Regions from separate parts of the Homo sapiens genome. Here region 2 is linked to region 1. The links come from fine-mapping of genetic effects on gene expression. A gene starts in region 1. The other region holds a variant in brackets. All regions are shown on one strand. Distances are from middle to middle. Region 1 holds the start of EPDR1 (ependymin related 1). Region 2 has its middle 37 kb from the start of EPDR1.

What was found. PIP is the estimated chance that this variant, and not a neighbour inherited with it, causes the effect. A credible set is the group of variants that fine-mapping cannot tell apart.
Region 2: its variant is the best candidate, but not a certain one, in a credible set for the expression of EPDR1 in whole blood (INTERVAL, PIP 0.50).

Annotation. Positions count from the first base shown.
Region 1 is chr7:37,917,070-37,925,407 of GRCh38, forward strand. EPDR1 (ependymin related 1) reads left to right here and starts at 3,571. Exons shown (of 3, transcript NM_017549.5): 1 at 3,571-4,139. The coding sequence starts at 3,871. RefSeq lists a silencer at 3,816-4,265.
Region 2 is chr7:37,953,549-37,961,886 of GRCh38, forward strand. No RefSeq gene overlaps it. Among named protein-coding and RNA genes, the nearest start is that of EPDR1, 37 kb to the left of the region's middle. The variant T/C (reference allele first, on the strand shown) is at 3,476.

The DNA of each region.
Region 1 (8,338 bases):
CAGTTGTTTTCGACACCGGATACAAGAGGGTGCGGGAGAGAATTTCAAGAGAGAGAAAGACACTCTTTGGCTGAAAACTGAACTTTGCTCCCTCTGCCTTAGAGTTTTTCCAAGTATAGAGTTGGGGGAAAATAGGAGCTTCTGCTGCCCTCTAATTCTGAAATATATTTGCTTTCTCCGGTAGGGGGCATGAGGAGCGCTGAGGACAGTTGGGACAATGTCCTGCAAGGCAGGCGAGAGTGCAGTGAATGTCAGAACAGGAGGGTCACGTTGTATAAATCACTCCCACTCCGCCCTTAGTTGTGTGGAGTGTGGTTTGTTGTTGTTGTTGCTAGTAGACAGTTTGGGCCGAAATTTTTCCAGTATAACACTTGGTTTGTTTCTGCTCCAGGAAGTTAACAGAACTGGGGGAAGGTGTGCTAGCATCTTCCAGCTTCAGAAATGTCTTCTAACATTTCCTCTTCCTTCTAACTCCCTGTTCCCCTCTGCAGCATTAGTGGAACCCAGGAGAAAACATTGGGCACCACAATCTGAAAGGTCTCCCCTGCTCTGATCCTTCATGCCAAAGGATTTCCACCTCAGCAGCCTAAAATCTTGATTTTTGATGTGCTCAGAGACTGTTGCTTGAGTTGAGTAAGAAGCTGTGTACTATGGGATGCAAGTATGTATGTTTTGCTTTCTCTTTTATCTTACTTGCATTAGGAAAAGGTAGTCCAATTGCTGGCTCAGCTATCTACAGAAAAGGGAGGATTTATTTATATGAGATTGATGTATATCAATCTTCAGGTGGTAAGACTTCTGGTATATGCTATTTATTAGGGCATCAGCAATATGGAAACATGTTCTCTGAATGTTAATCTTTAAAAACATAGTTTAACTTGAATTTAAGGCACATGGTTTTTCTCTCCAAAGCTTAAACCTACACAATTAGTTTAGTTTTGACTGAGGATTAAAACTAAAGACTAAGGATTAAAACAGCTGAGGAAACAACAAGCACAAGTGACATCTATTGGGAATTTACAATGGTCAAGGTATGAAGCTAAGAACTTTAAATGCATTATCTTATTTTTTAGGGAACATGAATTAAACATAGTAAGTGAAAAGGATAAATGAGACAAATACATTTCAGGATTCATCCAAAGAGTCTGGTTCTTATTTAGGGGAAGCCCAGGGTGTTCTTACACTGCCAAGCCACTCTAGAAAGGTAATCTAGTTCCTATAGAACCAGTCTCCACCTCCAAAGATGCCAAGCCAGGCTAGTAAAATATCACATGAGGAGGAAAGCCCAGATGACATCTCAAGCCATTTCTAGCAGTAAACTCCAATGAGTCTAAACCCTTCACTGGGTGAAAAAGATTTTCAGCTGGAGTTCCTACCTGGGGAGCAAGAGAAAGAGCTGAACTACCCTACACTTTTCCTATGAATCTGAGCAGGGCAAACTCGGAGAGGGCTCAAATTTCTGCAGCCAGTTTGAACCTGCTGCATCTGTTTAACTATGTAAGTACCAAGTCACAAAGTCTTATGGGCTTCCCTGATGTTCTCTGAGGCATGCCCTTTAAGAAAAGGTAAGAGGAAATGAAGAGCCCTTCTTCCTAAAGCTTTGTGCCTGCCCCATTCGGCCCATTGGTAGTGTCTCTGGTGGTTCGACAGACAGGGGGCAGCAGAGAAGGATGCATCAGGAAAACCTGTCAACTGTCCCTCCTCTTCGGGACTTCCAGGGAGGCTGTGATTCTAGAACACCCTACTTCAGCATTCAGTCCATTCTTTCCATGCCTTACATTTATTTAACAAGGCTCGGGAAGTTGCCTCATTCAGTGGCTTCTCTCTGGTGACTCCTTTTGGTCTCCTCAAGTGCCTGTTCTTTGCCCATCCTTTAAATGTCTGGAGCTCTCTGGGGCTCCATCCTAATCCTTCTTCTCACACTCAACACTCCCCTGAACTCCAGGTTTTCTCACCCCCAACACTTAGGACATTTGGGGCCAGATAATTTTCTCTTCATTTGGGAGAGGGGAGGTGGCTGTACTGCACATTGTAGGAAGTTTAGTAGCATCCTTGGCCTCTACCCACAAAATGTCAGCGGTAGCCTCCTCCCCATCTACATTGTGATCATCAAAAATGTCTCCAGATATTGCCAAATGTTTCTTTGCTGGGGAGGGGGATGTGAAATTTCCCCAGGAACCACTGTTCTACTCTTCGGCTTCATTTACCACCTATGTACCTATGGCTTCCTAATCCAAAAGCTCTGCTGGTTTCCAGAAGTATTTATCCAGCTGTCCCTTGGATATTTCCACCTTAATACTCCACAGTCAGCTCAAGATCAACCAATCCTAAAATGAATTGATCATCTCTCCTCACTCAGGACTGGATTCCCAGTGGCCCAAACCAGAAACCTCTCTCTCTGAGTTGAAATGCTTCTCTACAGCTCCCACCTGTCTTCCACCCTTTCCATGACCACTCCCGCTGCCTTAGCTGAGTCAGGATCATCTCTTTCCAGGATGATAACAGTAGCTTCCTCCTCTCCCTGCCTTCCCTCTGGCCCTACCCTTTCTGTTGTCTAAGTGGGCTTTCTAAAGCATATGCCTGATGATGCTCCTCCCTAGCTTTACATTGATTGATAGTTCCCACAGTCCTCAATATCAATGACAAATTCCTTAAAATGAGTGCTATGGCTTCAGAGTACTCCTCTACCTTGTCCTTGAACCCCAGCATTATTCTTTTCTTGTCCTTATGCCCTTCATTCAGGAATGTTATCTCCCACTTTCACCTGGCTCAATCTTAATCATCCTTGAAATGCAGTTCAAATGGAAAGACGCTATACATTTTTTTAGTTCCTTTCTTTTTTCTTGATTTCATACTTTATCACTATATTTTTAGAGACAGGGTCTCGCCATGTCACCCAGGCTGGATGGAGTGCAGTGGCATGATCATAGCTCACTGCAACCTCTAACTCCTGGGCTCAAGCGATCCTCCCACTTCAGCCTCAGGAGTAGCTGGGACTACAGGTGTGTGAGCCTCGCTCATTCCATATTATAGATCCTAACATTACATAACTATAAACCCAATTAACCTTATTCTTGAAGAAGCGAAACCCCCCAGACACCCAAACCACTCGGCTGGTGGTATTGCCAGGCGATGGGAGGAGCAGTCTCACTGCAATGTGACCTTGAGGCTATGTCCATGAGTCCTAGGCCCAATGCAAGGGGCTGTCTACTAGTCTCCTAGACTCTTCACTGGGAATGGGAGCTGAGGAGCGGCCATGATGAATAGCTAGTATCATTTCTTCAGGAAAAGACTCGTCTTTCCACTTTTAATTTGGAGGAAGAAGTTTGCAATTTTGTCGAGGGGCAATGTAGGCGGGGCAAACGTTTGCACAGCAAACGCAGCAGCTCTGCTTTTCCTATCTTGACCTTGAACTTGCCCCTCCCTGTGTGATTACCTGTTGAACACTGAAGTTAGTGGAGAAACACACTTCTCAGCACAGTCTCCCCCCATCCCCCCTCTTAAAACACGATGCCTCCCAGGATGCTAGTGGCACCACTGCCACTGCATTTCCTGTTGGCAGCAGTGAGCAGTGAAAACCGAAGCGGCAGAAGGCAGTGGCAGCAGGCAGTGGCAGCAGGCAGTGGCCCAGGCAGAAATAGCTCCCGCGCGATTCACTGGAGCCTTCCCCGGGCCCTGGTCCCGGCTACCGGGACTCGCGCGTCCGGATCTCAAAAGCGGCAGAGGCCACCGAAGGGACAGGAAGCACTTTGGTCCAGACCACACTCCCGGCACAGTGCGGAAAGAGCCGGCGGGAGCCACTCTGATCCCGGACGCCTCAGCGCCCCCTTGGGCTTGGGCTTGCCCTCGGGCCGGGGAAGGCTGACCGCGATGCCAGGACGCGCTCCCCTCCGCACCGTCCCGGGCGCCCTGGGTGCCTGGCTGCTGGGCGGCCTCTGGGCCTGGACCCTGTGCGGCCTGTGCAGCCTGGGGGCGGTGGGAGCCCCGCGCCCGTGCCAGGCGCCGCAGCAGTGGGAGGGGCGCCAGGTTATGTACCAGCAAAGTAGCGGGCGCAACAGCCGCGCCCTGCTCTCCTACGACGGGCTCAACCAGCGCGTGCGGGTGCTGGACGAGAGGAAGGCGCTGATCCCCTGCAAGAGGTACAGGTCATCGGCCCGCGGGGCGGGAGTAGGGAGCCGCGCGGGCATGGGGAGGGCGAGGTCGCAGAGGCCTGCGCCCTGTAACTCTTTCCGGCCCCTTGCAGCTCCTCCCTTCTCCCAGAGAGATCTTTCGCGAGGAGGGTCTCTTGGGGATAGCATGGTCCGGGACTGGGAGGGGCGCTGCGCCCACCGAGGGCGGCCTGCTGGCGGGGGACTCAGTAACACCCAGCGAGGCGGTGGCAGGTAAAGAAGGGACCCATCCAGGGCGGGATCAAGCTGCAGAGTGCCCCATGCCCAGGTTCGCCCCTGTTCTCACGCTGCTGAGTCAGGCTCTGGGCTCATGGAGCCCCCTGCAGTCTAGGGCGTGTCTTCTGCGCTATCTCATTTCTTTCTAGAGACATCTGCTAGAGAGGCACGCAGAATATGTATTTTCTAAGAAATACTTTTTGTATTTTAAAAGAATATGGCAAGATTACAAACGGTATGGGAAAGTGATAAAAAGAAAATTTCACCCACAAACTTAGCAAATTGTTACAGCATTAAAATTTTGGTCTACTCCTTTTAAGTTTTTTGTTTATTTTAAAGCAAATTTTACATACTATGATCAAAAGCCATACGTTATCTGAATCTTTTTTTAACTTAACATTGTCCCTTATATGTTCTTATTTGCCATTTTATTAGCTTGCCTCCTATTTTTAATGGCTGCACAGTATCGCTTACAGGGGCAAAGCTGTAAGTTTCTTTTAAGTATTGGTCTGACCATTCACCTTTTCACATCTGTTGTGACAAAGGAAACCCTCTTTTTGAGATGTCATCTCGCTTGTGGCCCCTTTAAGACCTGATTTCTAATTTGGGATCACCACCTGTCTCCCTTCCAGAGCCCTGCCGTTCCCCCTAAGTGTGTTCCTCTCACTGGCCTCTCTTTATGGCATTTGCATCATTAGGAGTTGCAAAGTGAATTTCCATGGTTTGAAACGCCAATGGACTGTAAGATCTATAGCAAAAGGGCACCATTAGTTTATAGAACAAAACCAAACTTGATAATATCATTTATTCTAAAAGCATTTGTTCAAGTATTAGGCGACTTGAAGAAAGTACGGAAAGGGCAGACCCTTTCAAACAATATCAAGGGTGCAAAATAATGCATTATGAAATGCAGCACAGAGCAGCACAGTCATCATGGTGGACTGGGAATTGATTCGAAGTCTTTCAAGAACATGAATGTTTTCAGTAGGGTCTTGAAGGGCACAGTAATAATAATAACAACTAACAGTTGCATACTTATTATATATGAGGCATGACACTGAGGACTTTACATCTATTATATAATTTAGTTTAAATCTCACAATAACTTGACAGTATAGGTTTTATGATCTCCATTTTACAGACAATAACTCTGAGGTCTAGGGAGATTAAGCAACTTTCTTAAGATCACACAGCTAATGCTTGAGGAAGCTAGGGGGGGGTTCTGACGCCTATGGTATACCAGGTTCACATTCATTCATTTATTTAACAAGCATTTGTTCATGTTAGGCACTGTGTATAAACAGAATGGCTCCTGGCTTTCAGGGAGGTCAGAGTCTGGAGGTGAAGTCACATAAATAAAAAAAATTTCCATACAGTGGGATGAGGGGTGAGAGCTGGGGTTGTGATGAGAAGAACTCAGTTGGGCACCTAACCCAGGCTTCCTGGAGGAGCTGAAATGAGAGTGAGTTCCAAAACACCTGTACAGGTTTTCCAGGGAGATGTGGAGAGACTGCTGGTCCAGGGGGATGCAGGTGTATCCATGCCTGGTATGTGTGTGCCATCCCGGAGTTTTTAGAGCTGAGTAAATTCCAAAAACCACAGACCACTCACTATTAGGGCTGAAGCCCAGGACATGGCGAAGGGTCATACTGAGGAGTTTTAAACAGTGGAATTTGTGATTAGATTATATAAAGATCCCTGGATGTGTCCTTAAGAATGCATTCCCAAGATGTGGACACAAAATGGAGCCATGTGGAGCAAAAGTGGAAGTGAGAACACAATCTTGGAGATTGTCGTAGTGGTCCAGGTGAGAGATGGGTAGTAGCGATGGAAATGGTGAACAGGGGGCAAGTGAATGCATTAGGGAAGTATTGAAGAGGTTCAACTGAGGAAAATGTACATGATTGGACGGGTTGTGGCAGGCGTGGTGAGGGAGAGGAAAACGTTAAAGAGGCCCCCATTTTTGGCTTGTGAAGCTAATGGTACTGATGGCATAGGGTAGATGGTGATGCTGTTCCTTGCAACAGGGCTTGACTTTGTGCACTTCTAATTAAGGGTGCATTGGTATCCTATGTAATTTTATGTGAAGACTTGTACAGTAGTGGCGCATTGATGAATAGTCATATTGAAGATGGACTGGGATGGCCGAGAGCACACTGCTGAAGCAGAGGAGTGTGTCAAAGAGAAGGATAAGGGTTCATCTCTCCAAAGGTAGTATTTTTTTTTTTACAATTAAAAAAATTAGACTTTAGAGTCAGACAAATCTGGATCTGAATCCAGACTCTGAATATGGGTCTTTGGGTAAGTTAATAAAGCTTTCTGAGTCTCAGTATCCTCATTTACAAAATGTGAATACTTATAATGCCTAATTTATTGGATTATTATGGGAATTAAATGAGCTCAAGTGTATAAAACATACAGTACAATGTCTGATAGTACGCACAAGATGCTCTGTTCATGGCCAAGGTTGGTCCCATCGCTACCACTATCATCATTATCCTGGTAAAGTTACCATAGCCCAGAGACTTGCTGCCAGCCCTTTGGGCTCAGAAACTTGATACAGCAGCACACACAGACCCTTCCTTTGGGAACAACCTTCGAGTAAGGAAACTCAAATGCTAAACCTGTCTACTTCAATGAGTCTTATTGCTGGCATGAGGACCAGCATTCTCAAATCCACCAGACTAGGTCATTCTCTCCCTGTAGTCAGAACTATGTGGGGAGCCAAATTATCATCAGGCAGTTGTGAGCAAAGAGTTGGAGCAAATTCATTGAGCAAACATCTAATGATTGCCTGCCCTAGGTTAGGCTGTATGCTCAATGTGGAGTTTTCCATCATGAATAAGACAGGCCAGCCTGGGGTAAGGTTTAATGGTAATCAGGCAAAGGCAAAGTGATGCATTGATTTTCACAATAGAGATGACTTGGTGGTGGTTCTGTGCTACCCCAACTGTGCTGTTCCTGACCCCTTCCACTCAGAATGGACCCTTGGTGAGTACTGCTCAAGTCTGTCTGAGCAACCCTTCTTCCATGACTCCATGACTGACTAATATAGCCTTTAGATGTGTGTTTTATACCTTTAGTGGAGTCACAGCCAACTCTTGCTGGCTTAGAAGCATTTTTGTCCCTTTGCGGTGATTTCTCATTCCTCTGCCCTAATCCAATAGGTGCTGGTTTCACAGTTAAACTTCTAAAAGACATTGTTTTCCCTTTCTTTCCGAGTTCTTGGCAAGGTTCTTTCTGACAGTCACATCGCTGGCCCTAAGTCAGATGTGGAAAAGAATGTTTAATGCATAAACACATTTTTAAGCTCTTTAAGTGTAGATTTGTTGGAACAAACTCAGAAACTTTTTCAGGTATTAACAGTCTGGCCAAGCAACCAGATGTTATTTGAAGAAAATATGGATGAGTTGTCTCTTCATATTTATGAGTAAGTTGAGAAGTAAGTTTTAGAATTGGATCAACTTCTTAAGATTTTCATTTTGCATCCAGATAGTTATGGAAAATCCCATTGATAGTTACTGTGGAATGACTAGGATTTTCCAGGCTCTGTTTTCCCTGAGATGATGGAAAAGATTAAACAACTTTACAAGCTTCAGATAAGACAAGCCTGAGCAGCAAATGGGAAATATTAGTAATTGATACCATTTTATTTTCTAATTCCAACTGTCTTTTCTGACTCCTTGATTAAATTCACAAGTATTTATTTGAAAGACTGAAGGAAATCAAGAAGATGATTTTCATATTTCAGGCAGCATGTTGAACTTTATAGGGGAAGCAGCGTTGATACACAATGAACCCTCTCAGGCCACCAGTAACTATAGGCTCCCCCTTACAAAATGGTGGCTTGGGTGTTGGAATCAATGAAGCTCTTAATGCAGAGTGAGCAGAGAGGCAGTAAAACAATATGCACAGTCTGGTATCTTGGAATATTATTTCATCACCAGTCGTAC
Region 2 (8,338 bases), 36 kb after region 1:
CTACTCAGGAGGCTGAGCTGGGAGAATCGCTTGACCCCAGGAGGTGGAGATTGCAGTGAGCCAAGATTGCACCACTGCACTCCAACCTGGGCAACAGAGAGAGACCCTGTCTCAAATAAGCAAACAAACAAACAAACAAACAAACAAATAAAAGCCTTCATTTTCTCAATGTTGCCTCTGTTATTTTAAATCACTTTGCCTATATATCTACCTGCAGCATATGGGGTGTTTTTACATTTTTCCACTTACGTAGATCTTGTCTTTCTACATCCACAGAAAGCACCTCAAATGCAGGAATGCCATTCTTGTCATTCTTGTTGAGTGAAAATAATTTATATTGAATGACAGAGTAAGCCTCCTCAGCCAAAGACTTGTGAATAACTGGTGATATTTGAAGGCTTTGTAGGTGAACACCTCTTTAAGAGACAAATTTAACTTTATTTATGGATATTCTGATATCAACAACCATCTCTTTTTGGAATGATGCTAAGATAATAAATGATTAGAACATATTTTTATTTGTTTTAAAGCAGAATTATTAGCTCAACTGCATGTGTAGAAAAAATACTGGGCCTATGATTTGTTGTATAGTTTATTCAGGGAGAGAGATGCTTCCCTTAATGATATCCTAATTTTAAAATTTATACTGTTTTCATTAGAGCAAAAATGAACACTTATTTTCAATATTTATTTCATATTTAAAGTTGGAAAATATAATGTAGTCTCAGCATTCAAGGAGTGGGCTATAACTATCCTATAATTTAGAAATAATATCAAAGACTTGGAACCAACCCAAATACCCATCAATGTTAGACTAGATAAAGAAAATGTGGCACATATACACCATGGAATACTATGCAGCCATAAAAAAGAATGAGTTTATGTCCTTTGTAGGGACATGGATGAAGCTGGAAACCATCATTCTCAGCAAACTAACACAAGAACAGAAAACCAACCACCACATGTTCTCACTCATAAGTGGGAGTTGAACAATGAGAACGCATGGACACAGGGAAGGGAACATCACACACTGGGGCCTGCCAGGGGGTGGGGGGCTAGGGGAGGGATAGCATTAAGAGAAATATCTAATGTAGATGATGGGTTGATGGGTGCAGCAAACCACCACAGCACGTGTATATCTATGTAACAAACCTGCACGTTCTGCACATGTACCCCAGAACTTAAAGTATAATAATAAATAATAATAATAACTTTTTTAAAAAGAAATAATGTGCAATGAATACAACACACTCAGGATTTAAGTAATCTGAGTATATGCATGTGTTGTGTTGTGGTTGCAGTTATATCATTCCCAATGGCATATTGTATATTTATTTTAACATACAACTGTTTAAATCACACAGCTAAGTATTCCTTTCCTTCACCAAGATAACTGATGGCAAAATAGGTACTCTTGTTACTTAAACATTACTAGCATTATTGCCATTTTTACATAACCTCTATGATTTTAATAAAGAAAATTATGTAAAAAAAAGAAGTCAAGGCATTATCTGTTATTGTGAGAAATGGGTTTTCAAGCCTAGAATATGTTACTTAATAACCTCTCAGCCCTAGTTGATTAGTTTCTCAGTCAGCCTGGGAGAATACCTGTTGGGAAATCACTGGTCTTAGTTTCCCAATCAGGAGGCACCAATCTAACTATTGAAAAGTCCCCAGTTAACCAAATACACAAACCTGCTTAATTAAAAGTGTAGTTTTGGGATAGACATGTGGGTATTGATATATGTATTAGAAAAACTTAGGGTCTGTTGGTTTTGTTTCACTCCTGATACCAGAAATGATACCTTTCTTGCGGGATCGTGGTATATCTGTCCTCTCTTATTATATAAGTGCATTTTAGCAAAGCTTAGTTTTATATTAAATTCAATTATAAAATGGGGGATTCTTTTTTAAGAAAAATTAAAATGTGTAAAAACTAAATTGAAAATCTTTGATGAGGAAAAAACTAAGATAAAAGTTGTTTCTAAAGCAGTTCTGTGATCACATTAGTTGATGGGCACATACGGGAAGCAGTTGCAATTTAGTCTCTTTTCAGAAGAGCCCTTTGCTTTTAAAGAACTTTCTGATTCTAAAGTGTTAGGTGACCTTGTCTCAGTAGCTGTGGCATCTCTGAGGGCTTGGGGATAATGAAGTGAAGATGTAGACTGCCCTGTCTTGAATGATCTTAGGACATTTTAATAACCTTAAAGTGGACATTAGAATAATGGGAGTGGGCAAAATGACATCATCTCAAGCCCAGGAAAAGTGTATGTTTTTATGATGTTTCTTATAACTTAAACCTCCCTGTACTTAACACCTTTCATAATTTCCTCCAGGTAAACCTATGTTCCTATCACCATAACTCTTATCACATAAAAAATAACTAATAGCACTGCAAAGATGTTTAGATGTATTTTAAAACTTCAAACATCTTGGGACTGAAGACGTTACTTAGATCCATATATGTCCTATCCTTAATACAAAAAATATCATGATGATAGCAATCCTATAATCCTATCTAGCTCAAACTAACTATATCCCAAGCAGCAAAAAGAGGTGAAGAAGAAGGAGCAGGAAGGGGAGGAGGAGGACACGAAGAAGAAGAGGAAGAAGAAGAAGAAGAAGAAGAGGAAGAGGAAGAAGAATAAGAGGAGGAGGAGGAGGAAGAGGAAGAGGAGGAAGAGGAAGAGGAAGAGGGAGAAGGAGAAGGAGAAGAGAAAAAGAAGAGGAAGAAGAGAAGAAGAAAGAGAAGGAAGAGGAATGGAAGAAGAAAAAAGAAGGATGTAGGGGAGGAGGAGAAAACATTTATCACCATAAATTCTCAGTCCAAAGGGCTGTTGATGTATACAGATGAATAAACATGAGAGTAGCACAAGCCACAATGGAGCAGCACTTTAGAGATTTTCAGTTCAGTTGCCTCCCCTTTAAGTTTCTCTAAATTAGAGCATTTCCAGACTAAACGTTCTTTCCTGAACCATGAACCATTGGCCCCGCCTGTCAGAAATTTAGAATTATTTCCATGTCTATGTACCTCATAGTACATGTTGACATTCAATGAGGAATAAAAATAGCCTTAAAAAGAAAGCCTGCTTGTTCAGGGAATAATTTCTCTGCCTTTTCAGTTCAATACATTTAAAATGAGTTTTATTTTGTCTTCTCAAAACAACTAAAGTTCAGTATTATGGTGTATTCAAGTGTGTAGGTATTGAACCTCAAAGGACTTTTTAAGTTTAACTTTGTATGGAAAGTATATGATTATGTAGGTAGTCTTTGGATAATAATGGGTTATCAAGTGATTTTGAAAACTCTCAGATCCATCTTATTCTTTCTAAACCTCTTACTTTCCCTGTTCAGTCATGAGAACTCTGTATTTCCTGAGTGAAGAAAGAGGAGGAAACAGCTTTATTGAGGTAATTCAAATAGCTCAGATAATAGAGGAATGAGAGTCTATTATGGAATTTGCAGTAGATGTCCC[T/C]AGAATGGAGATAAGTAAAAATTTTCCCCAGACTCCTGCCATATGTAATCATTCAGTACAACCATCCTGTTCAAAAATAAGTTTGTTAACAAATTTTCCATGTGTCTCTAGAAGAGTGGTCATCAACAAATCAACTTAACAAAGTCAGGCATAAATAGACTAAATTTAGGTGCCCCAAAGTTGGAAATAAGATTAAGCTCTGTGATTGAAAATATAGGACTGATACCTAATAAATGGATAAAGTAGCTATTTAGAGATATACATCACAGAAAGAGAAGGTCTTCAAGTTTGGGGCTATAAAACTGGAGAAATCATGAAGTCCGATGAAAGCAAGATTGCCATTGAAATGCAGTCTCATCAAAGTTTAATCAGAATTGGGGCTGATGTAAAAGAACACTGGAATGTTGTAATTTCGTCTGAAAATGAAGTGTTTTCGCAGAAGGATGTTGGTTTACATGGAGTTTAGTTAGGGAATCTTAAAACCAAGGATTTGGCAGTGTTTATCTAACTGTGTCCAGGAGAGAAAAATGTGGAATCTGGCAGTCATATACAGAATGTTGGGGACAATTATGAGATTAAAGTCATGTGTCATTATTTTGCCTAAGATTTAGGAATATTTCACTTCACTCTCCCTGTCAGGGATCCACAACAGAGCAAGGTCAGGAGACAGCAAAGCAAGTCATCACCGTTACTTAGCTGGAGCTCTGGCCCCGAGCACTTCTGTGGACGTCTGGTCAATCAGGCTAGACCAACTGGAGGAAGTGGAGGCCAAAGTAGCCGCAGGCCAGAGCAGGCCAAATTACTAGTTCTGTCCATTCTACTGCAAGTCCCAACACAAGTAGATCTTACCGCTCCCAGGTCAGCAAAAGGGCACACAGAGTAGACCCACTGGCGACAGAGGAAAAGGAGCAAGGACAAGGAAAGAAGTTTGTGCCTTGGTGCCCAATGCTGCCTTCCTCAGACCTTGGGCTGGTCAGAGCAGTAGCTAACCTGCATGGGAGGAACATCCAAAACAGAGAGATTTGGCCAGGCCTGTTGGTCAAGCAGAATCCAATAAGCTCAGAATGATCCCTCCAAACTAGGTAACTTTTCTTCTGATTAGAAATTTTACTTCTCAAGTAATTTTTTAAAATCATAACTGAATATCCAAAATGGCAGATTTAAGTATTTCACTCACTGGAAAAGTTTAAAACATCATTGCAAAATAATGCAATGTTTTTCTGATTTATTTCCCAGTCTCTTAAGTTAAATTGCTTAGTGCATGTCAGTCTGTAAGGGAGGCTGTGCAGTGTAGTAGAAAGGATGAGGATTTGAAACCATACTTACCTGAGTTCAGATGCTGATTCTGTCCGCCATTACCACTGTGTTACCGTGGACAAGTCATTTGAACAGTCTATGAACCTAAGTTTCCTCCACTTCTAACAAACAAACGAACAAACAAAAAAGGTGGCATATGGGGGTTGTTAGGGTTAAATGAAATAGCATTAGAACGTGTGTAGCACACAGCTTTGCAGGCAATCAGCACTCAAAATATTAGATGTCTTCTACCTCTGGCTTCTTTCCCCCTGAGATCCTGATCAACCCTCCATGGACCAACAAAATCAAACCTGTATGACTGTATGAATCTGCTATGGATTAGAGCAGGGTCCTGGAGGCCTACAAAGGCAGTGCCCTCAGTGGGCTCTGCTGGACCCGTCAGCTAAACCATTCCCTAAGGTATCTCTGTCTGTTCCTCATTGCTCACATTCGTGTGCAGAAACATGCACCCACCTCTAGCCATGCTCAGGCAACGTCAAGTATAATATACATGTAGTTTAAAAAAAAACCCCAGCAACTTCCCCTTAATAAATACATCTCTCATGAACCCTGGCATTTTGCACATAACATTTTTTTTTTTTTTTTTTTTTTTGAGACGGAGTCTCGCTCTGTCGCCCAGGCCGGACTGCGGACTGCAGTGGCGCAATCTCGGCTCACTGCAAGCTCCGCTTCCCGGGTTCACGCCATTCTCCTGCCTCAGCCTCCCGAGTAGCTGGGACTACAGGCGCCCGCCACCGCGCCCGGCTAATTTTTTGTATTTTTAGTAGAGACGGGGTTTCACCTTGTTAGCCAGGATGGTCTCGATCTCCTGACCTCATGATCCACCCGCCTCGGCCTCCCAAAGTGCTGGGATTACAGGCGTGAGCCACCGCGCCCGGCCAACATTTTTAAGATAGAGAAAATAACAGTAGTATCAACCTCAATCTACATCAGTGAGCACTTGTTTTGTGTCACATTCTCTCCAGAGTTTTATACTGATTATTTTATTCAACCTCAACAACCATCTTTGAATTAGCTACTATTGTTATTATGCCCATCTCATAGATTAGAAGACAGAAGTCCACATCAAATGCACTTGACTTGGGAGGATAATTGATAATAATTTTCAACTATGATTTTATTTACTGGTTGCATGCTATTTGTGCATTACTTATAGAAGTCATGTTGACTAAGTGAAGAAAAGACTGGGGAATACGTTAAAACATTTCTCTAAAGCTGATTTTGAATGATATGAGCTTAAAATAAAACTATTTCAATATCACCTTTGTTAGATTGCCAGCAATGCCTGTAGGCTTTTACGCTGTGGTGAAACCTTAACTTTCCCCAAACTTCATGGTCACACTTCCATTTAAGCACAAAAAGGGTGTAGAGTCACAATATATTAAGTTATTTTTTGGCACCAGAAACAAGAAGTACCCATCAGCAGTATGCCAACCTGTGCAAGAATTTTCACTAACTGGCCCTCAAGGGTCATGGCTCAGCAAGGTCATGGCCATTCCATTTCCAGGCTTTGAAAGGTGCCGGGGCAAGCAGGAGTAAGGTAGAAAAATGTTGGCATGCACTGTTGCCACTTCTGCCAAAAGTCTGGCCCATCAATCAGAAAGCCAGCAGTCATCTTTTTACTGAGAGAGTTGTACTGGGGGCAGCTGAAGCCACCCCTTTATCCTCAATTTTCATCCCACTACTGTTCAACAGCACCTCTTTCCCTGAATCGATGTCAGATAATACAAATTCTAGCAGCAACCAAGAGTGAAATAGGACAGGCAATGGGGCCACTGGTGAACAGTTAATGAAATCCCCAAAAGAGAGAAGAAGATCTGAGGATTGTAGTTTTCAGACTAAAGAAGTATCACTTGCTTGAAATGATCAAGAATCCATTCATTCATTGAGCATTACTGAGGCCCTCCTACATGCAAGACTGTCTTCTAGGCACTGGGGAGACAGTCAAGGACAAGGTCCTGCCCTCAGGAAGCCTGCATTCTGCTGAGAAGGAGACAGATGACACACAGAGAATTTTAAAAGCCAGAGAATGACAATAATCACCCAGTTAATGGAAAGAGGCTAAAGGAATATGGTGAATAAATAGCACCTTACGATGGGGATGGTCGGGTACAGCCTCTTTGACGAGGTGCCCTTTAACTTGAGTTTCCAATGTCAGAAAGAAGCTTGTCAGGAGAAGATCCAATAGGTCACATTCTAGGTAGAGGGAACAGTTAAAGCAAAGGCTGAGGCTGCAAGGAGTTCATCTTGTTTGAGGAACTGTACAGGCCAAGTAGATGGAGTTTGGTGGCTGAGACTTTCAAGGAGAGTGGATCCAGATGAGACAAAACAGACAAGGGAAGGCCAGACCTCACATGCTGGAGTGGCCACAGCAATGAGTCTAAACTTCATTCTAAGGCCAATGGGAAGTTGTTGAAAGGTTTTCAGTGATGATTCACAAAATCTGGTTTATATTTTCTAAGATCCTCCTGTTTGCCGTGTGGAAATGGATGGAAGGGGTGTGAGAGAGAAGGTGAGAGGACCGGTGAGCAGGAGTGCAGCAGCTTGGGAGAGAGAGCATGGTGGCTTTCAAGGGGGTGGCTGCAGGGGAATGGGGAAAAGGCACCAGGGTCAGGGCATGTTTGGAAGCAGTAAGTGGGACTTGTTCAATTAGCTGTGGTAAGGTGAGGGAGGAAGGAGGAGTTGAGGAAATCCAGTTGAGTTTTGTCGTGATTAAATTTACATAATATTCAGAGAACTAGATAACAGCAGCAGGAGGAAACCTCTTAATCTAGTGTCTAGTGGAATACCGTGTGTGTGCATGCTATTAGAACAATGAAGAAACTTCTATTAATTATGAAAAATGTGTATATATGCAAGTTTGTGTCTGTCTGTGATGCTATATAATAGGATATCAAACAAAATTTTTCCTGTTTTCATGGCTCAAAGCCAAGGACAATGTTTAGAGAGCCACCAGCCACCTCCTGCTTTTACTGAGAGGCACTAATGAAGACTTGGCTCTACCACTAACTCCTGCATATATCTCATCCTCCTTCTTTTAAGCCACGGAATGTGAAGTAAGTCTCGCTGGGTGTGCAGTTTTCAAAAGTGCATCTGCCATCCCTACCCCACTCTGCTCATGAAACTGAATATGTTTGTCCATCCTCTGGGGAGACTAGCATCTTGTTACTCACTTGAGCATCTGCTTAGACAGAAAAAAGTTTGAAGATAATTTTTTTTTTTGAGACGGAGTCTTGCTCTGTTGCCAGGCTGGAGTCCAGTGGCGTGACCTTGGCTCAGGGCAACCTCCGCCTCCCAGGTTCAAGTGATTCTCCTGCCTCAGCCTCCTGAGTAGCTGGGACTACAGGCACCCGCCACCATGCCCAGCTAATGTTTGTATTTTTAGTAAAGATAGAGTTTCACCATGTTGACCAGGATGGTCTCAACCTCTTGACTTCGTGATCCATCTGCCTCGACCTCCCAAAGTGATGGGATTACAGGCGTGCACCACCACACCTGGCCTGAAGATAAATATTTTAAAAATCAATAGTTTTCTAAATACCAGAA